Regions from separate parts of the Homo sapiens genome. Here all the other regions are linked to region 2. The links come from fine-mapping of genetic effects on gene expression. A gene starts in region 2. Each other region holds a variant in brackets. All regions are shown on one strand. Distances are from middle to middle.

Region 1 (7,544 bases), 30 kb after region 2:
GTATTGCAAGTCAAATAACTGAGAACTTTGTATTTTAGAATGTATAATGCACATACTTTTGACAACCCTTTTTTTTCTAAAATCTCAAACTTACAGGAATAGTAACATACAGTAATAGACTTGACATTCATAGTTATTGGAGTATTTAGAATGGGTGATTTTAGTTGGAATCAAAAACTAAGATTAGTCGTTCATTGGTCAGGCAATAGTTTATTAGTCCTCTACTGTTAGTGGGAGTAAAGATTCATGAAATGCTTACCTTCAGAGAGAGAAGCACTGACTTCTAAAATAGAACCACAACTTTCATTCAAAGTGGCAACATATCTTCTCTCAGATTGTCCCAAACCAGTGAGAACAAGAAACGTGCAAGCCATTTTTGATGGAGGGAGCAGAGTATCTGTAACCCTCAGTGTATAAAGTTGGAAAGTAGATAGAGGAATGGTAGATAATTTAGCAGAGTGGAGGAAGAGGCCAATGAAAAGCTAACCATTTAAGTGTTCTGCCCCCACCCCAACTCTAGATAGGCTTAGGTATAGGAGATACATTTTCTGGGGAAGCAACAGTGAGGAAGGACCAAAAACAGGGACTTTGTTTGCATATCTGTATCAGAAACAACCTCTGTTCCCTACCTCCAATCGGGCAGACACCCTTCTTCTGTCCCAGCAGGTAATGGGATGTGTGGTGTCTCCAGAAATAGAATCAGTGAGGCTGTATATTTAGGGGCACTAGTCCCAGAGAACGAAAGGAATGAGGCACGAAACTGAAAATAGGAAGATATCTTAAATGAAAGTCTGCACAATCAGTGCAACCCCAGCCCCAGAGCACTGGGCAGCCAGGTTTAGGTGAGTAAGATCTGACTACCCTAGAGAAAAGATCCATAGATACTGACTGACATCTGGGCATTTCTACTAGAAGAGCTTGCCATAGTTGACTAGTAAGGTCCACAATCAACAGCCCTACGACAATGCAAGAGAGCTTTTCATCAGTCTTTTTAGCACTTTCTTTTAAAATATGAATAGACAGCCCAGGATTACTGAACATTTGATGAGAGCGGATTATCAAACAGGAGAAGGAACATGAGACAATGCAAAACTCATTTTGCATTTCTTTGAAAAAGTCAAAGAAATCTGAAAGTACAACAAAGGTAAAGATAGATAATGGAAAAGAGATAAAAACCATCAAGGAAGTCCAACATCTGATAGAGACTGAGAGGACAGAGGAAAGTACAGAATAGAGAAAACAGAGTGGGGAAAATTGACAAAGAATATGATAAAATACCTTAGAACCTCTTGATCCAAAACCGTATATTCATAACCAGTTGATCTCAGGTTGTGAGATGATTTTTGTTTGCAGTTAAGCTAATGTTTATGCTTCAAGTTTTATCCATTTTATGTATTCATTCTAATCATAAAGATTTGAAGTTAAATACTCAAGTGGAAAAGATAGGAAGGATACAAGCTTCTAGGGATGCATGTATTATTCACAATGAAACCCTTGCTTTAGGGTTTTTATGGCAACTTAGCAGTGTCAGAGTTTTTTTTTTTTTATTGTTCAAAGATTTTATTTCTTTCCCTTTCTCCCCTCACCACCAATATTGCTAATACACCACATTTCAGTAACTTGCTTTCCCCTTTTTTTTTCTTTTGAGATGGAGCCTCACTCCCCCAGGCCGGAATGCAATGGTGTAATCTTGGCTCACTGCAACCTCCACCTCCTGGGTTCAAGCGATTCTCCTGCCTTAGCCGCCCAAGTAGCTGGGATTACAGGTGCCCACCACCACGCCTGGCTAATTTTTGTATTTTGAGTAGAGACAGGGTTTCACCATGTTGGCCAGGCTTGTCTCGAACCCCTGACCTCAAGTGACTGGCCTGCCTTGGCCTCCCAAAATGCTGGGATTACAGGCGTGAGCCACTGTGCCCTGCTTTACATTTTTTATAGTGCTTCCTTACTCCTTAGAAATCTCCAGATGATGGCAGTGAAGAATATTCTATACCAAGCACTGTGTTAGTTTCTTTACATATATGATCGTCACCTCTTAAGGAGGTGGAATGAGTGACATTCCCATTTCACAGATGAGGAGTATCGGGCTCAGAGAAATTAAATAATGTTTAAAAGATGATATTGCTTGTAAGTGCATAAGCTAGTCAGGTTGGATTGATTCCAGACTGATTTTTTTTTTCTAGATCATACCTATATATCTACGTCTTGCCATGAAGTAATTCTTAAAGTACATGAGATTTTATTCAGATTGCAAGGTATACTAGGGGTCTTTTTTAGATATATATTTGCATCTCTTCCTTCCCTTAGAAAAGATCCTTATATATTTATTCAAAAGTATATGTATTAAGCATTTACTGTGTACCAAGTGTAGTATATTAGTAAGTGCATAGATTTTTAAATTCTTCAGATATTCTGGGCAGATGCCCAAAATAACATTGAGGGGAAGAAGCCATTATGAATGAGGAGAGCTCTGCTTCAGCCTAAGCTGAAAAAAGATTATAAAAGGAAGCCTTACCGATGGCTAGAAATTAAAAACAAGTTATTTATTGATAGATATAGCATCCTAGTGAATTATGGATTTATCTTAATACATATTTATGGCAGTTATAACTTTTCCAGTCTCTAGAAAGATGTACAAGAACAGATTTCCAGTGTGTTAAATTTCTTTTAAGGTTATAGACTGGTTGTTTTGTAGCACTTTACAAGATAGGCTTTGACTTCCTTTCTGAGACCTTCATCTCAATTCAAGGAAGCTGTAGTTTAGAGTGTTTTGGTCTCAGTCCCAATTTCAAAATCTTGTGTGTTTTCCTTGAGAGTTTGCATTTCCCCTTCTCAGTCACATTGAACTGTGTGCTAGTATATCTTTTAAAATTTTGGTGGAGACGTTTGGAAGTTATTTTTATATTTGAACAATTGCAACAGTATAACTATTCAGATACTTAGCTCCTAGAATAATATTTATGCTTTTAAAAATAAATGCAGATGGTGTATAATAAATAGCTTTAATTCAAGAGTGGACTATGATAGTTTATAGACAACTGTATGTGCACATGTGCTTTGCTTGATAAA[A/G]GTACCTAGTCCCTAAAGGGGAATATAGAAACTAAATTGCATAAAAGTTCCAAATGTATTAAGATTCAAAATATAAAGGAAATTCATAAGGTCTAGAAAAATAGATCTTAAGTTAGGGAGATTTTCTAGATGATATGAAATCTGGATGCATTTATAGAAAAGATTCATAGTATATTTCTGTCTGATCAAAAATACTGTTAAAGTAAAACAGACTGGGTAAAGTATTGGTAATAAAGCAGAAAAGATTAATAAAGAAGTTGCTATAAATTAATAATGAATTCAGGAGAAACGTGGGTAAAGAAAGTAAACAAAACTTACAAAATAAATGCAGATGGCCAATAAACTTACAAAACTAATTTATCTCAATAACCAAAGAAATTAAAATTTGAACAAGGTACAATTATTTACCAATTAGGTTGTTAAAGAGTATTAGCCAGGAAAACAGCACACTAGATATTTCAAACCTAAGGGATTTGTTATGGGGAATTGGTTACCCAAATATTGGAAGGCTGAAAGAACATGAAGGGAATGCTGAAGTAACCCAGGAATTAGACGCATGAAGCAACTACTACTCAAGGGCTAGAGAGACAAAAGAGAAGGGGTAGTAGTATTACTATAACCTAGGGCAGTGGAGTAGAAGCCACCATGGAGCTATTAGTATCCAAGGGGACTCTGCAAGGCTGGCATAGGGGGCAGGAAAAGGCTCCTAACAGTAGCTAGTTGTGTGCTGCTGTTGGAGAGAGGTCAACAACAGCAGGAGTCAAGGAGAGTCTCCTCTTTCCTTCTCCCCTCTCCCACCTTACAGTCTCTCATCAGTACCTCCCAGTGGCAGAGAATGGCCTCAGATGGGGTCTAGGAAATATTGTTTGCAGACTACCAGCCCCAGTGCCACAGAGCCTTTGAAAACTAGAAACTAGAGGTATCCACAGGTGCTAACAACCAGTTCTGGTGAGGGGTATTCGATGAAATAAAATGTGTATGTGGTTGGTAGGAATGTGAATGGATTCAACTTTGTGGGAAGATGATTTGGAAATACCTATAAAAAGTTTAAATGTCAATTGTCTTTGACCCAACAAATCTATGTCAAGAAATTTATCACCCAGAAATGCTAGCCAAGTGTGGAGAAATATATGTATATGATGTTTCATTGTGATATTTTATATAATTTCAAAAACCGGAAATAGCCTAAGTGTCTATCATTAGGGGATTGACTAAATGTATTGTGGTGTATCCATTTAATAAACAAAATGGCCATAACAAAATAAGAGTTTTACCTGTGTTATTGTGTGATAAAAGCTGTATTACATGTGGTCTGATATATTTTGTCAAATCCACGAGAGTCACGGTGTTGAACTTAGCAAGGTTTTTCAGCTACTGCAAACATAAATTTAGAGGTAATAAGTACAATATTTGGTGTGTTATTTTTTTCTGTCAACAGTTATGAATGCAGGAATGAGGAAGTACTTCCTACAAGCCAATGATCAGCAGGACCTAGTGGAATGGGTAAATGTGTTAAACAAAGCTATAAAAATTACAGTAAGTATATGTATTTTTTTGAAAAACGTTCGATGTCTGGAATTAATCTTTTCATTTTGAAAATACACCTACCAAATGTTCCCAGCTTACCAACAGGTTTCATACTCAAGCTTTGTTTAAAAGACAGGTGTTCAGAATGTGAATATGTTTTCTTGTACTTGGTGACTGTTGGCACTTTAATCAGCCCATGATTGTCTTTTTAACTTATGCACCTAATAAGGAGATATATTACTGCAGATCTTAATCACTTCTTGCAACGTTTCTAGGAGAAAATGCGCTTAGCACGTAGAGTTCTACCGGGAGGATATATATTTTTCTTCCAATATAGTGTAAGAGATTTCCTGTCACCTACCTGGGGAATAGGCACTTCTCTCTTCTAAGCCATGACTGGGATTGGGGTCAGATAGGGAAAGAGTTGAAAACAGGAGCAGGACAAGGGGAGATGAAGGCTGAAAAATGAGGGTTAGGGATAGGAATAGTGTCTGAAGGGTTGCGGCAGCCAGAGGGTCCTGTCCATGTGACCCTTGAGAAGTTTGTCTCAGGCTCTAAACTTCTTCCCATGTCTGATTTTTTTCCTTGCATTCCAGGGCTTGGTACCCTTGCCCTCCTTTCCCATGCTACAATTTCTTGCTTCTAATGTGTGCTTCTTTTCTTTTTTGGTTTCCTGATGAATATTTATTGATTATTAACACTGTGCCAGATCTTAGACCGAAGGTTTTACTTAAATGAACTGGAAAAGTGAGGCTTAGAAAGATTAATCTACCAGTGTTATAGCTGGTAGATTATGGAGCTGGAAGCCCAGTCCAGTTTTTTGGCCTCTGGAGCCCGAACTCTGAAGTGCAGTGCCTTACTGCTTCCTGAACAAGAACAGCCCTCTCCTTACTCTTTTGTTCCTAAAGCCAACAACAACCTTTACTGAGAGAGTTTGCTAGTGATGATGAGCAGCACGTAGATAGGCTCTATTTTGATTATACCTTGCCTCACCTTTCCCTTTACACTTTTGTAGAGAAATACATAGCAGGCCTGCCTGGAAAATGTTGGGAAGGAGTTCTTGTGTTGTGAGATTTGTGTCAATTGCGTTTTTGTTTTTGTTTTTTTTAAAGAAAGTGCAGTTATATACTGACCCTAAGTGACTTATTCTCAAAGAACATGTGCCCTGAAAGTCAGCATATGTTAGTCACTCATTAGTTTCCATCTAAAATGAATAATTTCCTATTTATATCACAACACAATAAAGAGTCAATATAGTTAAAGCTGTTCTCAGAGTTTAGTCGAATCTTTTTGTTTTGCTCTAGAACAGCTTGTTACCACATGACAGAAAACGCCTACGCACCGCATCTGATCTGTACATGAAGCAGAAGTTATTTTAGGTTTGTGCAGTGTCAGGAAAGCAATTTTTTAACCTGATTCAGACATACATATTCTTAAAAGCTTTTAGCTAATCATTTTAACTCTTCTAATAAATATTCCCTGCTTGAAAAATTTCTTTAGAAAGATAATATCTCGTAACTGTACTAAATTCATGTTTTACCATTTGCAATAACAAGCAGCACTGGTTTCTTAGTGCTTTAAGAGAAAAAGTAGTGAATGGTCTCAGGCTTTTTACCATTTTGGGGGGTCTTGAATTGCTATGTCTGATTTATCAATGGTATGAAACAGTCTTATACAAATGACACTGGTAAGCTTTTCAGCATGAAGGAAAAACAGGTTAGAGATTCTAAATAGAATTCTAAAAAGACTTCTAAGTAGCTTTTGTGGTCTTGCAATTTTATTTTACCTGTTGAAATTTTTATAGTTTTTAAGATAAATTTGTTGGTAAATGATTTTAATGTTTTTATAATTCACATTTGGAAAATATAAATACATAGAAGTTATAGAAATCCTTATTACTTAATAAAGTGGTTATAACTGCATTAAAGTGAGTATAGATTTGATAGTACTTATTAAAAATAAACTTTTGATAGACACACATTTAACTCATAGGATAGCAATGAAATAATTTCCTATGCTTTAATAAGATGCTTTATGTTAATTTTATTCCTTAAAAATATCTTACCAGTTTCATGTGCATTTTATACATTTAAGTGTATTAAAGTGTGGAATCTCCAATTTGTTATATTTTCCTGTGAACATTGCTGATGATTTACATGTAGATTATTTGAAAACTTAAAATGTACATTTTGATGTATGTACTTAATACATAAATCTTTCTATGGGATCACTCTCATTTTGGTCAACTCTAATTTAGTGGTCTGCTAAGTACTGTGTGATATATAAATTTTAAAATTTTGGAAATCCAAAATTAGAGTTTGGAAGTGTGTGGTTTCAAAATAGAGGTGGTTAGAGGGCAATGGGTAAGGGAATGATGATTTTTAAACTATTTCCTAGTTATAATATCTTGCCATTTTAATCCATTATCCTCTAACGCTATAGTCTGTGACTTTCCTTACTTGAGTCTAGGTGGGTGCCACTTGAAATTCTTTTCCCTTTACAGTTGCTTTTCAACTTATGATGGGGTTACATCCTTATAAACCTATTGTAAGTCAAAAACACAAGTTGAAAATCCATTTAATACCCCAACAAACCCACTTGTAAAGTTGAAAAATTGAACCATTGTAAGTCCTGGACCATCTGTATTAAACATACGCACAAAAAGGAAAAGAGCAACAGTGGGAGAATCAGCCCCGAAGGGGGAGTATCAATGACTGGAGTGAGGAAAATCAAATTTTAAAGTATGCTTTCCACTGTTCATTTATAGTGGAAATATATATAGTGGAAATATAGTGGAAACAACATAAATATGGTGGTTTCTGTTCCCTTATTGATTATTAAGGAATGTCTAAGATATATATGGTTTATTCCTGAACAGAGATCCATTATTTTTAAACATGTCTTTTTTAAAATTTAAAAATAAATGTTCGATTTGAATCTAAAAATTA
Region 2 (7,544 bases):
ATCCCAGAACTTTGGGAGGCTGAGGAGGGGGGTAGATCACTTGAGGTCAGGAGTTCGAGATCAGCCTGACCAACATGGAGAAACCCTGACTCTACTAAAAATACAAAAATTAGCCTGTCATGGTGGCAGGCACCTGTAATCCCAGCTACTTGGGAGGCTGAGGCAGGAGAATCACTTGAATTCAGAGGCAGCGGTTGCAGTGAGCTGGGATTGTGCCACCACACTCCAGCCTGGGCGACAGAGCGAGACTCTGTCCCTTCCGGCAGAAAAAAAAAAAAAAGTAAACAGCTAAACTATAGATCCTTGAATTCAGACTCCTCCTTTTTCTTCAGATGAAAAGTAGCCATGGAATATTCCAGCATTCCTCAGTGCCTTCAGTGAGTCCTGAGTGTTCTTGGTTTGCTCCCAGACTGTAATTTCCCTGTACTATTTTTTTTTTAAATAGCACTGAAAGCACTGTTATGTAATAAACCTCTGCATCCAAAAAAAAAGAGGCTGGAAGAAAAGCAGAGAGCTTTTTTTTTTTGTCTCTGTATTTATTGGCTGATCGGGAGCTATGAAGTTCTGGTTATACTGCAACCTCAAAGCAGTCCTGGGATTATCTTGTTGTGTGTCCTTGGGCAAACTGAGTTACTTTTCTGGCTTTCTTTACTGTATGTAAATATGGCTCTCAATGATAAACAGTTTTGGGGACTTGTTATGCAAAAAGAACAAAGGAGCAATTTTTTTTTCTTGAGTCCCGTTCTGTCCCCCAGGCTGGAGTAGAGTGGCACGATCTCAGCTCACTGCAACCTCCATCACGTGGGTTCAGTTGATTCTCCTGCCTCAGCCTCCCGAGTAGCTGGGACTACAGGTGCCCACCACCATGCCTGGCTAAGTAGAGGGGGTTTCACCATGTTGGCCAGGCTGGTCTCAAACTCCTGACCTCAAGTGATCCGCCCACCTTGGCCTCCCAAAGTGCTGGGATTACAAGCAGGAGCCATCACATTGGCCAAAGGAACAATTTCAAACCACTCATCAATGATGTCAAACAACATTTAGGAGAGAGATCCGGCGGGTCCAGCCTGGAGAGGGTGAGAGGCTCTTGGCCTAAGTGTTCTATTCTCAGGACCAGTATTTTCAGATCAAATAAAAGATGTGAATTTGACTTTGAATTTCAAATAAACAAATTTCCCATCTGGAATCTTCTAGGATTCTAGCACTGACAAGCTAGAGACTCCTTCCAGACCTTCTAGCCAGGGAAGGCAAACTCAAATGCCTACAGGGATAAGACAGGTGACACCTAGATTTTTATTTTTAAATGTTAACCACACATTCAGTTAAATCAACAAAAACCCACTGTGTGGACCAAAGGAAACAATCTGCTCTGGCTACTTTATAAACTATAGTGAGGCCAAACCCTTTCAACCATTATACAGATGAGGACCCCAAAAGGGACAGATGTCAGCAAGGCTGCATAGCTAAGGTTTCTCAAAAGATAACCAAAATATCACGTTGGATGAAAGGCAATTGAAAATGCTAAGTCTCAAAGAGGCAGTCAGAGAGCCGTTCTATGCAGTTTGCAAGATGTTTTCACCTCCATCAATTTATCAGACTCTGAGAACATTCTGCAAGGCAGGCAGGGTGGATGACACTCATTTACAGTCGAGGTCACTGAGGGTCAGAAGGGCAAAGTGTCACTCTCTGCATAAAGTCACATAGGTAAGTCTACACAGGAAAATCTAGGGCTGTTCTTCACTACACCTCTGATTCAGATAACAGGTAGGCTTCCTCTAAGATTTTAATAAAGACAAACTCAAAATCCTGTATGATGCCCCATGAAGAGAAACAAGTCAGGAGGCCAGGCTGAGCCCCCAGACTTCTAACCCAGTTCGCAAATAAAGAAAGTGGCAAAGTAGATAGATTCCAGCCTGTCACCAGGGTTGTGTCTTCTGTCCTAGCAGCTGTACAGCTTGTCTTACCACTGGACATTTGTTTCATGTACATTTTCACATAGGAAGGATATTCTAAAAGATGTTGATAAAGATTTTTTAAAGGGTTTGAAGGGGATAGGATGTGATCTAAGGTTGTGCAAGGAGAGGAAAGGAAGAAGCACACAAAAAGAACAAATATTTATTAAGAGCCTAGAGTGGCATGCGCTGTGAAAGGCGTGGCATGTAATTCTTTCCCAGTTCTTTGCCTGTCTGAATATTTCTCATTCTTCAGGTTTCAGCTCAGATATCACATCCTCAGAGAACTTGCCTTGCCACTCTCTCTGAAGAGCCTCCCCCCGTCCCCGCCACCGCTACTGTCTCTTGAACTTTCTCAGTCTGGCCATTCTATTAAAATCTGGAACGATTTTGCTAGTTTGCGGACGAGTTTCCCCCAAGCTGCAGGCTCCATAAGGGCAGTGACAGTGTCTCTTTCTCAGATGAATGCCGGGTTGCCTATCGCGTACTTGGCACACAGTTAAGTGCTCGAGAAATTGCTAAACACTCAACGAATATTTACCAGAATACATATTTATGCTCCACCGTTGCTGAAAGAATTTCGACTAACCCTTCTTTAAGTCTCTCTTACCCTCCTGTACTATTAACACCATTGTAAGTAGGCAGTGGAGCTACATTTGCAGGGAGAGAGAAGAGCGAAAAATTGGCGCGCAGAGCTGTAAAGCGTTTTTCTCCAGGTCACACCGCAGCCTGTAAATTTGTGACACTTGGACCGATTATGGGACAGCTTGCAAACAAATTATCTGCAAACTAACGAAGCCTATTTTTAAAGATCCCTGTTCCTCGCAGCTCTAGGCGATGACATCAGAGAACCCGGAGTTCTACCTCCGAGCCAAGCCCAGTGGTGGTCAAAAACTACGAATACCAGGAAGCACCGCGGCGCGGCGGCCCAGAGCTCCGCGCGCAGGCCTCCCCGGCGCGCCGAGGCCGCCGCCGCTGGAACCAGGAAGACGCCAGAAACTCGGCCCGCCACGCCGCAGGGACCCGCGCGGGGCCTGCCGGGACTCGTAGTCTCTGCGGGCTGGGAGCGCCCGCTCCGGAATCTCAGCCGCCGTCTGAGGGCTGAGGCAGCGTGGGGACGCGTGCGCAGTGCGCGGGCTGGCCGTCGCGGACGCCGCTCCGGGCAGCCGAGCCTCTGTGGGAGCCGGGGCCGCGGCGGCGCGGGTGCTCCGGGCCGAGGCCGCGGTAAAGTTTAGCTTGAAGAACGCGGCCGCGCTGGAGCAGGGGTGGTGGACGGGGCCAGGCGCGAGGTGGCGGCGGCTGCGGGGCTGCCGGGCTGCTGGAGCGCGGTTCCCGCTGTGGCGAGCGGGGAGGCGTCCGCAGAGGGGCGGTGGGTGCTGGTGAGTGCGGAGCCGGCGCCCCCTCTGCGCACGTCCGCGCCACGCGCCACAGCACCTGGAGGCCGCCGGGCCGGCTCACCTGCCCTGGCTTGGGGCAGCGGGAGGGGGCGGCGTCTTCTTCCCGTGGGTCCCCGATTGTTTTCCCGACGTCAGCCCTCAGCGGCGCCCGGCGGGGGAGGGCGGGAGGCCCGCGGCGGTCGCGGGGCCGACGAGCTCCTCGGCGTCTCCGCCCCCCGAGAAATCCCGCTCGGGGCGCGGTGCGCGCAGCTGCCCGGGGATTCCCGGTGGCGCCGGTCGGAGCGCCTCCCTCCAGGGCTGTGCCCGCGGGGCGCGCGTCCCCGGGCATCCTTTCCTGGTGTTTAATGCATTTTGGCTTCAGGACTTGCCGAGGCCGAAGCCGGCTCCGCCCTGGGCCCTGAAGTCGGGCGGTGTCCGCGATTTACCTCCGCACCTTCGGGGCAGGTGGCCAGAGGCAGCGTTGAAAGCGACTTGCCCAAGGTCACGCAGGTGGCACCGGGGAGGCGACCAGACCCAGGTCTTTCGACGCCGAGGCCAGCTGCCAACCGCAGAGCTTTGGGGCCGTCTTGAGTGGTTTGTGGTTTGTTTCAGATGCTTTCTATTGACCTCCTGGAAAGAGGGGAAAGTGTGTCATAATGAAAGCGGTCCTGTTGCTTATAGTGTTTACCGCCTTTGGTAGAATTCTGGTGAGGCTGTGCCCCCGCGCAGAGCATCTACCGTGGTCTGGGCGTATAAATAATGAAACTCCTTTGCTCTCTGGGGGCAGTACAAGAAGAGGTTCAAGGAACAAATAAATATCCAGGCAGTTTCTGCGTTTTCCTCGTCTGTTTGTTTCACCTTCCAATTCTGCAGTACTGGTTTTCTTATTTTACAATTGATCGTTGTTTTAATAAGATTTTCTTTGTTTTAATGAAGTCATTGCCCCTTGTGAGTTAGTTTTCTAAATAGAAAATCTTATTTCCTGTGTGTTTAATGACTGGAACAAATAGTGCACTATGAGGTTTACACCATTGTCTTTCATCTTAGAACTCCTGATCAATCTGCTTTATTTTCCCAAGTACTCAGCTTGCATACTTTCTATGTTAATTTGATGCCACTGAAACCATTTACAGCAAAGTTTGGGTAAGAGTTATGTGATTGTTTTGTGAAACTGTGTTTTTCTTCACAATCTGAAGAACTTGAAGACCCGTTATATTAAAATAATAAGATTTATTCTGATCAAAATACCTGTTTACTTTTCATGCTCTTAATTTTTCCTGTTGACACACTTGTGGCAAAAGAAATATTTCCCCTAGTGGAGTTAAAGTATTTTTTATCTTGGCCAATTTTCCCAAGGAAAATTGCATTTTAGAGTACTGATACATTTAAAAAAGAGTATTTAAGTTTGACAGAATTTGAATTAATAAAGTAGTTAATTTATTTTATACTGCCGTAAACCTTACACTGTATCTACTGACAGTTTTCTCTTGTAGCGTATACCTGTATCAAGATATATGGCTGTGAATTTAGTGACATTAAGAAGATATATATATATATATATATATATATATATATAATATAAATATATGTGTATACACACCGCGCGGGCGCGCGCAGAGCTTCCAATCTTTATCTTGTTAATTAGTATTTTCATTGTCGCTTTGGGAGGGGGGAAAGTAGCAGGTTTGTATCTTTTTTTCTCCCCAGTTTTAGCAGTGTAACAAAATAGGAAAGATGGTGTGTAAAATTGAGTTTGTCATAGACTAGGAGAGACAGTGAAACAGGATAAGTATACAATTGTGAGGAAACTGCCATGAGTTCATAAGCCGGAAGGACCTTTTTAGAAGTGTTTAAGGATGTTAAGAATAGCATTGGATTCTTTTCTTTAAAAGTCATTCAAGTATCGTTTGCTAACATATAGGATATGACAATATTGACCACTCCTAGGAAGATACTTGGGAAAGGTGGAAACATTTTACATTTTTATGGGGACTTCCCCCCACAAAAAACATTTAATGGAGATTTAAACAAAGTGGCTTTTTGACTTAAGCCTGGAAGTTCTTTATTATTATTAGTCATGCTGCAAATCCCGAAGTTATTTTAATTGTGTGATAATTTGTAACCCAGAATGAAATCTAATAAATAGTTTATTAATATAATTTAAGTCATACTTTGACATTGACATATTGCTTGATGTCAAGTCATTATTGTTTAAATAACTTATTTGAGAATGGGGAAGATAGTTTTCTGAATATAGTGTAGTAATTATTTGTGACAATAGTAACATTGCTTTTATTAGAAAATTTTGGGTTGATATAACTAACTGCCTTAAAGTATTTCCTATTTGATTCCAACTGTGAGCTGAGGTAATATGCAAATAATTACTTTTCTCATGCTGGAGCAGTTTACTTTTGTTAATATTAAAATTTAAATTTCAAGATTAAAAAATCTTGTTTTAGATCTGCAATGATACAATAAAATGACTTCAATAGGAGTTAAATATTAAGATTTGGTTTTAGGTTTTTTGACCATTTGTGAGTACACATCCAGCATTTAAGAATTTATTGACATGGTGTCTGAAAGGAATGCTTTCAGAAAGGGCAGAAAACTTGGTAGCTTTAGATGATTGTTTATAATGCTTAATTATTTTTAGAAACATAAAAATATGGGATGTTTTTATGTAAACATAAAGCATCCTGTTATTTGTTATAGCACTAGAACTCTCTTACACTTACTGAGCAATATTAAACCATTTGACCCTAAGTAACTTTTTTTCTTGTGGGTACTGTCTAATAAGGGATATGTGAGTTTGTGATTCCTAGAAGATGCTTAAGCAAACATATGTTTGCTATTTATTTTAGTAAGCCTTTTAATTAGTTGAATTGATAATATTCAGGAAGATAGGGTTTTTGGGATTTTATAAGCTTTCTTTGAACTGGAATTTCTGTTGGATATAAAAGAAAATTAGTCATTTAAGATTTTTTTAAGTTAAATAAGTTTTAGAGCAAAATATTGTTTCCTACATGGAACTCTTACCAGGCTTGTCAGTCTGATAGCTTTATTCTCCAGAAAGTTGTGGTTTTTAGCCCTTTAGGCAGCCTAGCCTTTTATGGTTTAACCATTGAACTCTAGATTCTGGATTGAATTTAACCTCTTGAAGGAAAAGACGATCACAGGCACTAGAATTGGAAGTGATGTCAGAGGGCTTCTAATGTAGCATCTTACCCGGTACAGTAAATCCCTCCTGAGAATTTCCATGTCAGGTGTTCCCTCCCATTATTAAGGATGAGAATGCTATTGCATATGTCATCAGGTTATTCAGCAGTCCAAGCTTACTGAGAACAAACACAAGAGTTTTAATGAGTTTTAATTTTCACTATTCACTGCCTTTAACTGTATTTTGTAGGCTCTTTCCCACCCCCCTGTCCCCCACCCCCCATAACATCATGGGTAAATGATAGCTTTTCTGTCATTTACAGTTATCAAAAAGCTCTAGGCTGGGCTCAGTGGCTCATGCCTGTAATCCCAGCACTTCAGAAAGCCGAGGTGGGAGGATAGCTTGAGCCCAGGAGTTTGAGACCAGCCTGGGCAACATGACGAAACCTTGTCTCTACAGAAAATAGAAAAATCAGCCGGGCGTGGTGGCATGTGCCTGTAGTCCCAGCTAGTTGGGAGGCTGTTGTAGGAGGATCCCTTGAGCCTGGGAGGCAGAGGTTCCAGTGAACAGAGACTGTGCTGTGGCACTCCAGCCTGGGTGACAGGAGAGTGAGACCCTGTCTCCAAAAAAAAAAAAAAAACAGAAAAACAAAAACAAAAAATTGCAGTCTATTCCAGTTTGAACATTCAATCTCATATATATTCAATTTAAAGGTTTTTTTTCCCTTCCTTACCCTGTGGTCAGGCCACTTACTTACTGAAGCACTTGGGGTATGGACGGCTTGTGGTAAGCTCCTGGGATACTTCTTTCCTTTCCCTCTTAAGGGATCTATTTGGATACAAATGTGTCAAGAAGAGAAGTAGAAAAAGACAAGTGTTTGTTATCTGGTGCTATTAGAGTCCTCTCTTGATTAACAGTGGCAGGCCATTGCAGTCTACTAATAGGCAACCAAACTGGCATTTTTGGTGAGATCTTGCAGGGAGACTCCTGCTGCACAGTTTCTGGGTATGAAATTTTCTGTAGCTAAACCTTTTCCAACCTACACACCCATCTGCTTGCTCC
Region 3 (7,544 bases), 890 kb before region 2:
CTAGAAGGAAGTTCTTACCTCATTGGTTGTGAGAGTGAGAATTCGATCCAAGTCTTCTACCAACTGCTTGAACGTTGGTCTCTGGGAGGGCACTGCATGCCAACAGTCCCTCATCATCATGTACCTGGGAAAAATGGATTTCCTTGAATTAATTTCATATGCACTGGGTACGTGGTTATAGTCAGTTTTAATAGGCAATATGGGGACGTGGTGTAAATTAGGAAAATGCATCAGAACCTTCCAAGCAACTAGATTAGGGGGTCATGAATCACTTTCCCAAAAGCTTCCCTGCCAGTTCCTCCGAAAGGCACTTTGACTTACAAAAACATGTTAGAAAGGCATCGAAGCCATCAAGAAAGACACAGCTATGTGTTTTCCCTGGTAACCCTGGGCCACAGTGACATCTCACAATGGCGTCACACCCTAAAGATGCTTTGGAGGCTGAAGGAAAATGCGTATTTCCATGGGCTGGTCTCCAGTCTTCCCTCCCCTGACACCCTGCCCAGCACCAAAGCAGCTCCACTATTTATCTGCCCGGTGCTTTGGGTCTTAATGATTCTAGTTGACACAGCTTCCTGAGTTAAAAAAAAATTAAATAAAATTTGAAAACTACAACTTCAAGTTTTTGATGAATTAATCTGCCACCACTGGGCTGCACACTAACTTCCTGATTAACTCTTAGATAGGCTTAGCTTCCCAGGTCTTATCTTGATTTTGGGTTTCGACAGATCCTCTACGTTACAAAAGAAAAAAAACAATAGGAATGACAAAGAGCACAATAAATGCCTTTATATAATATGCTATAAAATGTGGCCATTCATCAGACATCCACGGTACACCGAAAAGCACTCACGGGATTACTGATATAAAATCCCCATGAAATGATACACAATAGACCGCAGTTTCTGGGACAATCACTCTTCTTAGTTAATCCTGGAGGGGTTGAGGCAGGAGGCAGAGAGACTCCTTTCAAAGCACTGATTCTATTGCACCAGGCACACGTCACAAACACAACATAACTCCACTTAAAGTGTGAGGCAGGTTTTGCTACAAACCAGTTCATGGTTTTACAGGCAGATCTGGTACAGTAAGGAGGGCGCCTGGACACATGTTTAATTCTCTGCACTAAAACACAAGTGAGACCTAGGTAACCAAACACGAGTTCCTTCGCTCTGAGGAAATGTGGTTGGCGTCAATCTGTAATGGCAATTTTCAATGGTTCGAGAAGTTCTGGAAACACCGATTCTCTACTGGCCACGATGGGGCCAGGCGGGGGCCAGGCACAACCACCAGGGAAAGGCTGTGTTGGTTCCTTAATCCTACACCCTGCAGGGCGGCCCCGCGGCTTTCTAGCTTGTTTCCTGACCCGTGGGTCTTCCTGTCACTCCACGGGAGACCGCAGAAGGTGCAGCACAGTGGCCCAGGAAGACCACTCCTGCTGGCTCTGCAAAGTCAGGAGCCCTCAGCCAGGCAGCCAGACACCCTCTGATCCAAAGCCCTCTCCATACTCAGAATAATGTTCTTTCTCTCAGACAAGTAATGGTTGTCGGTGTCGCTATGTATCCCAGCTCTGGATTGAGCCCAGAGAGCTTCAGCCATTCTTCTTAGAGCATGTTTAGGAAACCAGGGGCCTTCAAAAACGAGATACATCAGGAGAGGTATTACTGGTGTGGCAAGTCCACTGGGGCACCGGCAGGAAAGACAACAGCCCTTACAGTTCGTTGGTGCAGTTGGCTGGCTTATCCATTCTGTGTCCTTCCTTCAGCAGCTTAAAAAGTTCCTCCACGGGAATCCCTGGGTAGGGCGAGCCCCCTAAAGTGAAGATCTCCCACATTAACACCCCGAAGGACCAGCTGCAACAAAAGGAGAAAGCACGGCATTACTAACCCATCCACGTTGCCAAAACCTAAACACGCCCAGCTGAGACATAAACACCTCCTCACTTCTGAAGTTCAAAGACAAATGGGCCCTCCTGCAGTTCCTCCTATGTGCTCTTTCCTGCCCTGCAAGAGCATCCCCGAATGATGATGACACGGGGATGTGCTGATGGAATTTTCCATCAATAGACAAAAAGGCAAACTGCCATCACTCTGGAATAGAGCTGCTTGTCTTAAATGTGGTGTTAGCAATGCAAGGATCTCAGTTTCTCAGTTTCAAAGCCTTTACGCTCCTTTCCAACTCCTTATGTGCCTGACCCAAGGGTTGTGATCTACCAGGATGGGCAGTTGACAGAATAAGGCCAGCAAGCCAACTCCGCAGGATCACAGCTGCCCTGTGTGGCTGGCGGAACATCTGCTGCACAGAGGCTCTGGAACTTACTAAGATCGCAAAGGCAATCAGCACTGGGCTGGGGTTAGGATGAGGAATCACATGCCCCAGATGAGTTGCACACAACAAAACTGAACACATCTCACAGGCCATAATTTATTTACACTTGACTCTTCAGAGATTTGGACTTCCTGTGCCAAGTTCAGGAGGCTCAATCTCTGGGAGGAGCAAGCTGAGAGAGCCAGGTTTAGCTACATCATGGTCGTTCTGGAAACTCAACCTTCTGTACTCGATGGTGGTGTTTCACTCCGCAGTTTTCTACAGAGCAAAAGCAGCAGCACAGGACAGGCAGAACAGCCTCTGTGCCTCAGTTGCTCACAGCAAAAATGGGATAGTCATGTCTTTTTTTTAGGATTGTTGAGAGGACCAACTATGGTAGCACAGAATTAATGCCTACCCAGAACTCCTCCTGCTCATACAAATAAAAAATAGTTCAAGTGATTTTTTTTTCCCCAGACAGAGTCTCGCTCTGTTGCCAGGCTGGAGTGCAGTGGCACAATCTCAGCTCACTGCAACCTCTGACTCCCAGGTTCAAGCGATTCTCCTGCCTCAGCCTCCCAAGTAGTGGAGATTACAGACACGCATAACTACGCCCAGCTAATTTTTGTAGTTTTAGTAGAGACGGGGTTTCACCATGTTGGCCAGGATGGCCTTGATCTCCTGACCTCGTGATCCACCCGCCTTGCCCTCCCAAAGTGCTGGGATTGATTACAGGTATGAGTCACTGCACACAGCCTTCAACTGAATTTTCAAATCTAAAATATCAGTTGGAGCCTGACCCCACTGGTTTTGTCAGTATATCATAATAGAAATATTCTACTGTGTTTCTAGAATGCTATCAAGGATGCCAAAGCAAGATCAGACCTTTTTGTTGAGGGATAAACATAGAGAGTAGACCCTGTGGAGGTCCCCAGCCTGGACCACATCTCACTCAGCTCCACTCTTTAAGGACAAATCTGGGTTAGAGGGAAATATGACAAACTACTCGTAAGTGGGAAAAGCTCCAGGATTACTCCTTTAATGGAGTGAAGAACATGCCAAGAGCTTGGCGAATTAGATAACCGCTTTGTAGTTGCACATCCATGAATATGTTCAAGGGAAGGACTTCCGCTCTGGCAGGGGGAGG[T/A]CAGCAGTTCCACCTTCTGTGCTCTTTGAAGCCAGGCAGATTAGTAACAGAGCATTGGTTATCAGCCTACCATAAAATCTGTCCTTTCTAAGGCCAGCTCCTGCACCTTCTACGAATGTGTGAAATGCAGCAGCCACTAAAGAAGGAAGAAAGGTGAAGTACGTACAGTATTTTTGCAGCTCAAGCCCAGGAAAAAGCCAGAGAAAAGAGAGTTACTCACACATCACTCTGATGAGTGTATACTCTATCAAACAGGGCTTCTGGAGCCATCCACTTGACTGGAAGCCGCCCCTGCAAATGTAGAGGAAAATGCAAAAACTAAATATATTTAAAAGAATTTATCTTAGCAGGCTCAATAGGGCTATGCCCTGTTTAAGAGCTGATATTCTCGGTTTTTACTAGTCAGTCAATAGAGCAGAAATCAGTCCCAATGAGGACCATGAACAATGTGTGAGATGCACAGGTCTGGGCCGTTAATAAAATGCCATCTCCTTGGATTCTATCCTTTATCTCCCTAGCACACAGATGCTCCTTGACCAGTTATTAGGCAAAAATTAAACCAGTAACTTCCAAGCTGTAGTTTTTGCTATGAAAGTTCTTGATGAGAACCATAAGAAAATCCTAGCGGTTGCTGATTATTCTGTATATAAGTGTTTCACATTTACTAAAATTGACATAATAGAGGCTAAATTTGCATATTGAGAGTTTGTGAATAGTAAGTCAAAAGAACGGGAATCGGGGCAGGGGAATGGGTCCCCAGCCATCCCACCCAGCTCTCAACATTGACGGCCTTTCTTCCTGGAACATTCTGAGCCTCACCCCCGCCCCTGCCCACTGTGTTACTGCCATCGACTTACATTGGTGGTCTTTTTGTAATAGTCTATATTGTTGATATCTCTGGCGAGTCCAAAGTCTGCTATTTTCATCACATTGTTTTCTGTTACCAAAACATTTCTGGCTGCTAAATCTCGATGAATACACTGAAATCAAGAAAGAAGCAAGAGAAATAACTAATTTCAAAACACCGCCAGAACAAAAAGGAAATATGTTCATTTCTTAAAATGCAGATAGAAAATATAGCTGATGTTAAAAACCAGTTGCGGTATACTATAAGAAATACAGTGTGGCCGGGTGCGGTGGCTCATGCCTGTAATACCAGCACTTTGGGAGGTCAAGGTGGGCGGATCACTTGAGGTCAGTAGTTCGAGACCAGCCTGGCCAACACGGCAAAATCCCATCTCTGCTAAAACTACAAAAATTAGCCGAGCGTGGTGGTGTGCACCTGTAGTCCCAGCTACTCAGGAGGCTGAGGCACAAGAATCACTTGAACCTGGGAGACAGAGGTTGCAGTGAGCTGAGATCACGCCATTGCACTCCAGCCTGGGTGACAGAGTGAGACTCTGTCTCAAAAAAAAAAAAAAAAAAAGAAAGAAAAGAAAAGAAAACGCAGTGTGGCTCTAAGATTAAGAAGACAGGTCAACTGGGATCATCGGAGAGCCTGGATCACGACATGTATTTGTTTTGGAATTATAAATAAATAGAATGATCATTTTGAAGAGCGAAGGTAGACTAAATAACCATATTCTCTTCTACCTCCAGTTGTCCAGCCACACCAGTGTCTTTCTTTCAGCTGCTTATAGATCTGTATCTGATCATCCTAAAATCTTTTCTCTCAACACTTGCTCTCCTGCCCTTTAAACCTGAATTTTCAGAAGCGTTGGTTAAAATCCAACATTGTGTCTTCTTCATTCCTGGTCACTTCTCAAACATTCTAATCTGTGTTCCACTCTTGCCTCTCCTGAAGCTTATGAAGAACCTCTGAATTGTTAGACGCAAATGACGTCCTCCAACTCCTCAGTTGTTCCTCCTCTGTGGCTTCAGATGCTATTGATTTCTTGCTTGTTTTTTAAAATGGTCCCTCTGTTTAGGTTTTCTTGTTTTTGTTTTTTTTGTTTTAACATGGAGTCTTGTCCTTGTCGCCCAGGCTGGAGTGCAATGGTGCGATCTTGGCTCACCGCAACCTCCGCCTCCTGGGTTCAAGCGATTCTCCTGCCTCAGCCTCCCGAGTAGCTGAGACTACAGGTGCCTGCCACCACACCCGGCTAATATTTTGTATTTTTAGTAGAGACGGGGTTTCACCATGTCGGTCAGGCTGGTCTCGAACTCCTGACCTCAGGTGAGCCATCCGCCTCGGCCTCCCAAAGTGCTAGGATTACAGGTGTAAGCCACCACACCCAGCCCCTCTGTTTAGTTTTATCCCGTCCCCTTCCCTCAGCTGCCTCTCTGTCTCTCCCTGCCCTCTTAGAATCTCTGGCTGGCTCTTCTCTTTTTCTGTCCCTTCAAATAGAGGAATTGTTCCATTAAGTTTATGTATTTCCATATATCCTCAAGGCATTAATTCTAAACACATACAAAATATGCGCAAGTTCGTATCTCCATCATGACCTCCCTCCTGAGACCCATGTTCTCATTTTCAACTGTCTATGGGACACTTCCCCACTGACATTCCCTTGACGTCTCAAATTCAAGGTTTCAACTCCTCCAATGCTTTGTCTCTCTTAATCGGAGAGCTATACACCGGTATTCTTTACACATTCCTCCCAAGTCCTGTTGATTTCAACTCCAAAATGCCTTCCCATGTGTCCACACCATGCCTTTCCCACTGCTAATGCCTTAGTCCAGGCCATCTTCACTGTCTGCCCCTCCCCCTGAGACTTCCACACTGCCCGTCTAGCGGGTCTCTACGCTTCCAAACTTAGCCCTGTTGTACCTCCTCCATGTCCCATGACTAAGGTTCCTGAAATGACTAGTCATGTCCTTTCTTGGTCTCTACCATGGCCAATGCCCGTCTATCCACGTTCTCAGTCCAGTTTCTCCTAACACCTGGCCTCAGCCTGAATGTGCCACATACACTGATTCTAAACACTGAAATATTAAATACTTGCTGCAGAACAGCTAATTTATTGTCTTGACACTAACTCTTGGGTCTCAGAAAGATCTAGCTATTACGACTTTTCCTTCTTTTTTTTTTTTTTTTTTTTTTTTTTGAGACGGAGTTTCACTCTTGTTTCCCAGGCTAGAGTGCAGTGGCACGATCTTGGCTCAATGCAACCTCTGCCTCCCAGGTTCAAGTGATTCTCCTGCCCTCAGCCTCCCAAGTAGCTGGGATTGCAGGTGCCCACCACCACATCAGGCTAATTTTGTATTTTTGGTAGAGATAGGGTTTCACCATGTTGGTCAGGCTGGTCTCAAACTCCTGACCTCAAGTGATCCACCCGCCTCGGCCTCCCAAAGTACTGGGATTATAGGCGTGAGCCACCACGCCCGGCCTATGATTTTTCCTTTCTACAAATGATACGCTACTGTGAGCTGCTGCATTTTTGTTACACTTTCATATAGCAAGATTTCCACAAGATACAAGGTAATTAGGGTCTCCAATCATCACCTTCTATTTTGGGAAGAGATAAGACACAAAGAAGCAAATATCACCACCGAAGCCTTTTACACTGGTTATTGGCAAAGGTTAACTATCATACGAAGCAGAAAGTCTTATCAGTCCATTCAACAAGGCTGAAATGGGGGCGATCTTAGGCACTCCACGAAATGGACAATTAAAAAAGGGGCAAGCTACGTGATCCCTGAAATATAAATAAGGAATTATTTGATTCCACCCCGACCCCTAGCTATTCCTTGTGTTCACACACTTCTGGGCCTCCCGGGTAGCCTAAGCCCAGAAGCGGGAAAGCAAGAAAGCCACGCAAGCTTGCAATCCCTGGCCAGGTTGGAAGCAGGAAACATGAGAGCTCACAGAAGCTGCCTGGAGATTCGTCTGGGGCTGCAGCCCTGTTCCCAGTTTTGGAGGCCTGTTCAAATTGAACTTCCAAGCCCCGGGCCAAACTCTCCCGGTGGTGTGCTCCTGCCGACACGCGCTCTGTGTGTCTGGCAAGCTGTGTGGTCAGAAGAATGTGCTTCCCACGCACTGGGCTCCAACTATGCATTAGGGCTCAGCTTGCACAGAGACACTGCTGACGGCTCCCTCCACCATCTTCTCAGCGAAAGCCAGAGTCTAGCGTGGCCATCCCTCATCCCA
Region 4 (7,544 bases), 52 kb after region 2:
TCAAAGTGACATTCCAGAAAAGGAGATGCTGTGCATACTGGTACGTGGGTCCGTCGGGGAAAGTCTGATGGCTAATAGCTTTTAATTAGTTACACTGCCCTTAAGGCCAGAAATAATGTGAATAAGGGCCGTATGCAGTTTTTCTTGTTTCAAACAACAGTGTATATAAGGTTATAGTGTTTGAGCTATTCAGATGCTGGATGGTTTAAGAAGGTAGATTTATTTCTGAGATGTGCTTCAGAAAAGAAGTGTGATTTTCACATGGGTCTTCAAATAAGACAGCTAACCTTTGAAAGGATTTTAAGAATAAACATCATGTAACTGTTTTTTTTTTTTTTTTTTTTTTGCCAGGAAAAGGAACCTCTTCGTGTAATACCACTTAAAGAGGTTCATAAAGTCCAGGAATGTAAGCAAAGGTAAGGAACCGCTCTGACTTGATGCCTGGCACAAGTTATAAACACAGAATAGTGCCTTAGTTTGAGTAATGTACTTACAGATTACATTTTTCCATATTAATTGTAGTTATTTTTAACTCTTTATAGTTGAGATACACTAGAATTTTCAAAACCCTCAGAGTAAAGTATTGAACTACTTTGTTCATTTGAAAACTAAAAATTAGGAAAGAATCGTTTATTTGTTTCTTTGAAAACTAAAAATACAGAAACAGCTTACTAATGGAAAGGAATAAATTTAATGTGAACAACTTATGGTTAGGCCATCAGATTTGACAAATTGATGTATTAAGTGTTTAAAAGATGCAGTAGAATAGAGCTTCACAAGAAAATGTGTTAGCTGTGACAGTGTTTCACCAAACTGATTACTAAAAACTCTGAACTTTAAAGTTGCTTTGTGAACTTTTTCTAAAAGTGAAACTACATGAAATATGTAAAATCTTACATTAAAATAAATGGGAAAAGATAATTTGGGTTTGCTAAATCAGTGCTTTACCTCATTTATTTATTGACGCATACTGGGTACTGGGTAAACAAATGAAAGAGAAACTCAAACAACTGCTATTTAAGTATAATTGGATTTTTTTTTCATACAGCGACATAATGATGAGGGACAACCTCTTTGAAATTGTAACAACGTCTCGAACTTTCTATGTGCAGGTAAGATGCTTATTTGGCAATTAATAGATCCTCCTAAAAAGAAATTAATAATATTAGAGGTGAAATAAACATAAACAAGCTTGTTGCACTTGAGGTTAAAAAAATATGACAACTGTAATTCACCAGCTTAATAAAAGGGTACTGTATATAGAGTTATTGGTGGGGTTATATGTTCAGGAAGTGGGAGTATTTGTTATGAATTAGTGAACTAGAACTAAGTATTTAGAGAAAGGGAAATGCTTTTAATTTAGATGTTAAGTGTGTACTTTCAAGTTGGATTATTTTTGCACATGTTTTAGAATTTTGATTTTTCTATTATATCATTTTTTGGTAACCTTATTAAAAAAACCCATAGTAAAAGTAGACAGTAGATTTATATAGTTTCACTAATAGTAGGCATCCTGTATTTAAGTTTAAATTGTACTTTTTGCATACTTCATTGAATTATTTAAATGGAAAATTTTAAAAAAAGATTTGGGCCGGCTGTGTTGGCTCACACCTGTAATCCCAGCACTTTGGGAGGCCAAGGCAGGCACATCGCTTGAGTCCAGGAGTTCGAGACCAGCCTGGGCAACATGGCAAAACCCCATCTCTACTAAAAATACAAACATTAGCCAGCCGTGGTGGTGTGCAGGCTTGTAATCCTAGCAACTTGGGAGGCTGAGGCACGAGAATCGCTTGAACCCAGGAGGTGGTTACAGTGAGCTGAGATCGTGTTACTGCACTCCAGCCTGGGTGACAGAGACCCTGTCTCAAAAAAAAAAAAAAAAAAAAAATCAAAAAGGGATGATTTGTTTTTGTTTTATTGAAGTTAAATATGCTTATTCCAGAAAACTTGGAAAATATAGAAAGATTTCAGAAAAATGTGGCTTATAAAACATTCAGTCCCACATTGAGGCAACCATTCTTATGATTTTGCTCCCTTTCTTAAGGTATATATTTTTATAATAGGTGGGGTCATACTAAATATAGTGTTATATCCTATTTGTTTCATATATTGTTATTTTTTTCCCATGTCATTAAAAATTATCTGAAAACCTTTTAGAACTGCACCATACTCCATTGATGTTCCACCAGTAAATTGTGTCTGTATTACTCTGTTGCTGTATTGTGTCTGTGTTACTCTGTTCATGTGCATAGTTTTTGTACATTTACTGTAATAAAATGATGAAAAACATCTTTGTGCATTACTTTGCCTGATTTCTTTAGGGTAAGTTTCTAGATCGAGATTAACTATCAGAGCATGACCCTTTCTATTTTGTCAAATTGATTTCTAGAATTGTATTTCCATTAGTAATGAATGAAGTATACTCTACCTTTGGCTACTTGTATTTTTTTTTTTTTTTAGTCTTTGTTAATATTACTTATTCAAAAATATTCTGCATTTTAAACTTTTTCATATTTCTAGATTCTAGAAGTGTAAGGGATTCTAGAATCTAGAAACAAGAGGCAGTATCTCTGCACCCCGATTGGGGCCTTATTTAATTGGATTAATTTCATAGTAAGGTTTAAAATTCACATTGAAAGCCAGACGTATCTGTCAATACTTATTGTAGGATTTAGGGTACTACTAGAAATTATTTCCAGAAAAATATGTAAAAGAATGTCAGAATTTTTAAAAATTACACAACTACATAAATATTCTTGTAGCAGATTCAGACAGTGTAGCAGTAGGTAGAGTGAAATAAGAAGGGTTTTTCTTGGACTTCCTCCTCTCCTTGTTTTCTGTCTGGAGGTATTCATTATTGACGCCTGTTGATGGGTCTGATCTTGACATTGAAGTGCTCAATTTATGTCTCTGTGTAGTTAAGACCTAGCAAAACCTGGCTTTAAAAAAATGATTTCTAAATTTTTTGGAAACAGTTGCCTTAGAGTGATTTTGTTGATGACAGTATTTTAAGTTATCAAAATAAATACATTGGCTGTATAGAAGTAGGTGATTTTGAGAAAAAATTGTTTGAATGAGTTCTTTTTTCCTTTAGGCTGATAGCCCTGAAGAGATGCACAGTTGGATTAAAGCAGTCTCTGGCGCCATTGTAGCACAGCGGGGTCCCGGCAGATCTGCGTCTTCTGTAGGTTTCCTGCTCTCTGGGGTGATACTCCCTTGCGTCTCCCCCATCCTATCAAATTTCCTCTCTCCCAATCCATCCGGTTTCTTTCTTTCTTGAGATTTATTTGCATGTTGACTTTTATACCAATTGGACTTGCAAAAAATAATGCATTTCTAATTTAATGCTTCCTTGTAGTATTATGTATACATAACTTTCTGTGCATTGTATTGTGTTAAATGCACAAGTAGGGCAACTAAAGAATAAACATTTCCTTGCTTTGTTTTAGGAGTTCTTACTTGTCAGTAGCTCTAGATTTGGCATAATCTGACAGATTCTTAGTATGGTGTGTGATCAGGATCATGTAAGACTTTTAGTTGTAGCGTTACACAGTTTTGTGAACGTCTCAATTTCCTCTTTACTTCCTCTGATTTCAGTTCAGGTTTTTTGGTTTTGTTTTGTTTTTTACCTTTGGCTTAACCATGCCATCAGATCACTGAGCAGCTGGGGCCTTAAATACAGTTCAGTGCTCCCAGTGTTTCCATTTCATGTTTTAATTCTCATTTTAAAACCTGCTTTAACAGCCTGCTTCTGAAAACTACCATAATTATCTTTGTGGTAGTATGATAATAAAATTGAAATACAACTAAACATTCTGCTCAGAAATATTTTTTTAAAAGATTTTTCTTGTGTTCAAGTACATAAGAATTAGATTTGCATTTGGAA[TACTTTG/T]GCCACTGATCTCAGGTCTGAAAATTTAAAGTATCTTAAAATGTAACACTGCCATCTGCGGAAAGTAGTCTCATATGTAGCATGATAGCCTTTATTATCTAGATTTACTATGACATATATGCTAGTTACTTACACTTTTAATATTTTTTTCTGATAGTATTATAATACCGCCTTTTATTAGTTTTCTGGTAGTGATAACTACAGATAAATAAATAGAAATCAATGTTTCTGATTTCTTAGTTGTTAAGTCATTCTCTCTTTATATCCTTTTTGAAATATCTAAGAAGTCACTTTCATAGATGTTCATTTTGTAACTGCCTGTATTTTATGTGACTTTTTCAGCAGTCAAGTATGAGACTCTCTGCAAAAACAGTGTCTGTTGGGAAGAGGAAAAGTTGGAGAAGGATGTTTGTGTTTTGTGCTTTGTGGTGGGGGCAGATTGGACTATCTAGCTATGACTGTCAGCACAACTTTCTCTTTTCCTCCCTCTACCCAGTATAGGTTAACTCTAATCTTAGCTTTGCACTGTGTTCCAGATGCGGCAGGCCAGAAGGCTGTCGAACCCTTGTATACAGAGGTATACATCAAGAGCTGGTGAATGCAGCACGTATGTGGGCTCTCACGCAAACGTGCCTTCTTAGTGGAGGGCCCAGACTTACTACTTACAACTGATCATAGAAAGTTGAGTTAACCAAACTGCCTTTTGCAGTTATCATAACTGATTTTGTCAATACTAACGCAAACTGTTTCACTGTAGTCATCAGGTTGGATATGTGTATTTAAAAATAAAAAATAAAACATACAACTTTACTAACAGAAAGAGACATTAACATATAAAAATTAATATACTCAACTGCTGCAAGAGTTTCAATTTTATATTATGTATTTAAAAATTTTTAAGATACAATACTTACGAAATGCACCATTGTTCTAATAATATATGCAAACTAATGCATGCATATGCATTGGATAAACTGTACATTACTATAGTTTGCATGGCATTTAAAAATCTCTGAAATTTAGCCATCTAATAGGACTCTGTAGTGTTTTGGTAATTTGTAGCACTTTGATTTCAAAGCCACTGGTATCATAAATGAATATAATATACTAGTATATAGCAATGTATTTAGAATGGTCATATTTAAGGATATTTTCAGATTTGATCTAGTTAGAAGCATATTGAAATTAACATTCTCAACTACTAATTATTTCACCACAGTTTAAAATGTGATAAATGTGTACCCTTTGTTACCTTTAAAATATTAAGCCATATGAATATATGACCTATTCAGAACTAAAATTAAGTAAAAAATGAAAAGACTGTGCTATTATTGGTTGCAGTGAAATTCAGGGAAGTAAAAACTAAGTCTTATCAGCAGAATAATGTTTGAAAGATGATTCGTGCTTATTAAAGAAATATGGCCTTTCATTGTTATAGTCTATATTTTAATTTTTTTCATTCTAAAATATGTGGGATAATTCCTAGTGTTGACTGAGAATATACTCTTAAATAAAATGATACAGCTGGGAGGTTCTCTTTTAAACACAGTTCAGTTGCAGCTGGAACACTGTATTTCAGTTTAGGTTGGCTGAATCTTCAAAGTGTCATAGGCTGCCAAATTCAGCTTTGGTGACGGAACTGGTTTCCTAGTGGAAATGGTTTTTGGCTATCATTGCTTTAAACTCACCTCTAAAAACGCGTTGCTTTGGGAAAGAACTTGCACATTTATGCTGCATGGCTTCTGCTGCTGCCTTTGTGTGTGTGTGTGTGTGTGTGTGTGTGTGTGTGTGTTTTATTTGTTTTTCAGAGAATCAAGTCTCACACTGAGTTACTAACCTGGTCATGAGTGACTGACCGTGTCTGACTGCCACTCCTTTTTGCAGGAGCATCCCCCCGGTCCTTCAGAATCCAAACACGCTTTCCGTCCTACCAACGCAGCCACCGCCACCTCACATTCCACAGCCTCTCGCAGCAACTCTTTGGTCTCAACCTTTACCATGGAGAAGCGAGGATTTTACGAGTCTCTTGCCAAGGTCAAGCCAGGGAACTTCAAGGTCCAGACTGTCTCTCCAAGAGAACCAGCTTCCAAAGTGACTGAACAAGCTCTGTTAAGACCTCAAAGTAAAAATGGCCCTCAGGAAAAAGATTGTGACCTAGTAGACTTGGACGATGCGAGCCTTCCGGTCAGTGACGTGTGAGGCAGAAGCGCACGGAGCCTGCCTGCCTCTGCCGTCCTCAGTTTCCTTTCATGAGGCTTCTAGCCAAAGATGATAAAGGGGGAAATGGTTTTTAGTGCGTATATTATACTGCCTCTTAGGTGTACTCTTTATAAGCTGGTAAACCAAGAATCTAGGGAGTGGCCAAACTAAATATAATTTCTTTAAAAAAGAAAGAAAAAGGAAAAATCCAAAATATCTCAGTATCATCTGTCTGAAGCATTGTGTGTTCTCATTCGGGTGGTAACAATGTATGTGTAATATTTTTTTCTTAGTGATTTTGACAGTTTAAATGTTTAACAACTTAAAGCATTAAAAATGCTTATTAATAACTTTGGTCATTTAAAAAATGCTACAATGACTTCCTATTAAAGGTTCAATATTTACACATTCTTATTGGTTGATATTACCACATGAAATATTGCCAGACCAAGATACCTAAACTCATGATGTCTGTGGTGCTGTAAAATTTATACTAAAATGTGGACTATTTTGAAATTATAACCATTTTTGATGCCCTGAATCTTGAGGTGACTTATTTTGCATAGAGGATATGGATAGACCAACAGTAAGGGTTGTGGGTTATACCGGCATAGAGAAAAGAAGAAAACTAGAATTGAAACAACTGTGTCTTAGACATTTGTTTGAAAAAGCTTCATCAGGCCTTGGAGCAGTCACTGCTTTATTCCGCAAAAATTATTTGGTAGGAAATTTTTGGGAGATCTGATTTTCTTATCCAAGTTTTGTAAATAGTTGTTATTTCTATATTTGGATTGGTGAAAGACCTCAAGTTTATATGTAAAGACATAACTGCCCTTAGTCATGAAATTGTTGTGACCTCTACTTTTTGTCACTAATAGCCTACATTCAAGTGCCTGTGTTTTTTCATCTTGTTTAGGAATGTTTTGAGATTAATGTGCTTAAAAGTCCTACGTGACTGATTTTAAACATTGTGATAAAATTAATTTTCAGTAGAATAGTTGAATGTGTTAAGATAGGATTTTATGTTAGAGATACCAGAATGCTGGTATTCTACTACTTGTGCAATATATATGTTTTAAAAAACAAATTTGAGAATACATTTAATCATAGGGATATAGATATAAGCACCTCTCTAAAGAATCTTTAGTTTCCGACGTTGAATTATAGACCAGTTTGAGTAAGTACTGCTTTTTTTTTTTGGAGACGGGCTCTCGCTCTGTTGCTCAGGCTGGAGTGCAGTGGCGTGATCTCAGCTCACTACAGCCTCCACCTCGTGGGTTCAAACAGTTGTGCTGCCTCAGCTTCCCGAGTAGCTAGGATTACAGGTGCATGCCACCACACCTGGCTAATTTTTGTATTTTAGTAGAGATGGGGTTTCACCATGTTGGCCAGGCTCGTCTCGAACTCCTGACTTCAGGTGATCCACCCATCTCAGCCTCCCAAAGTGCTGGGA

Evidence for each region. PIP is the estimated chance that this variant, and not a neighbour inherited with it, causes the effect.
Region 1: its variant is fine-mapped to the expression of PLEKHA1 in whole blood (INTERVAL, PIP 0.98).
Region 3: its variant is fine-mapped to the expression of PLEKHA1 in ovary (GTEx, PIP above 0.99).
Region 4: its variant is fine-mapped to the expression of PLEKHA1 in whole blood (TOPMed, PIP above 0.99).

Annotation. Positions count from the first base shown.
Region 1 is chr10:122,402,069-122,409,612 of GRCh38, forward strand. It overlaps PLEKHA1 (pleckstrin homology domain containing A1), which reads left to right. Exons shown (of 12, transcript NM_001001974.4): 5 at 4,508-4,605. Among named protein-coding and RNA genes, the nearest start is that of MIR3941, 11 kb to the right of the region's middle. The variant A/G (reference allele first, on the strand shown) is at 3,070.
Region 2 is chr10:122,371,634-122,379,177 of GRCh38, forward strand. PLEKHA1 (pleckstrin homology domain containing A1) reads left to right here and starts at 3,075. Exons shown (of 12, transcript NM_001001974.4): 1 at 3,075-3,173. RefSeq lists silencers at 2,783-2,932, 3,073-3,182, 3,223-3,292, 3,313-3,472, 3,483-3,682.
Region 3 is chr10:121,483,680-121,491,223 of GRCh38, forward strand. FGFR2 (fibroblast growth factor receptor 2) reads right to left here. Exons shown (of 18, transcript NM_000141.5): 14 at 4,312-4,434; 15 at 3,675-3,745; 16 at 1,716-1,853; 17 at 19-124. Among named protein-coding and RNA genes, the nearest start is that of FGFR2, 110 kb to the right of the region's middle. RefSeq lists an enhancer at 1,390-1,923. The variant T/A (reference allele first, on the strand shown) is at 3,455.
Region 4 is chr10:122,423,848-122,431,391 of GRCh38, forward strand. It overlaps PLEKHA1 (pleckstrin homology domain containing A1), which reads left to right. Exons shown (of 12, transcript NM_001001974.4): 9 at 352-416; 10 at 1,049-1,112; 11 at 3,095-3,184; 12 at 5,777-7,544. The coding sequence ends at 6,091. Among named protein-coding and RNA genes, the nearest start is that of MIR3941, 11 kb to the left of the region's middle. The variant TACTTTG/T (reference allele first, on the strand shown) is at 3,887.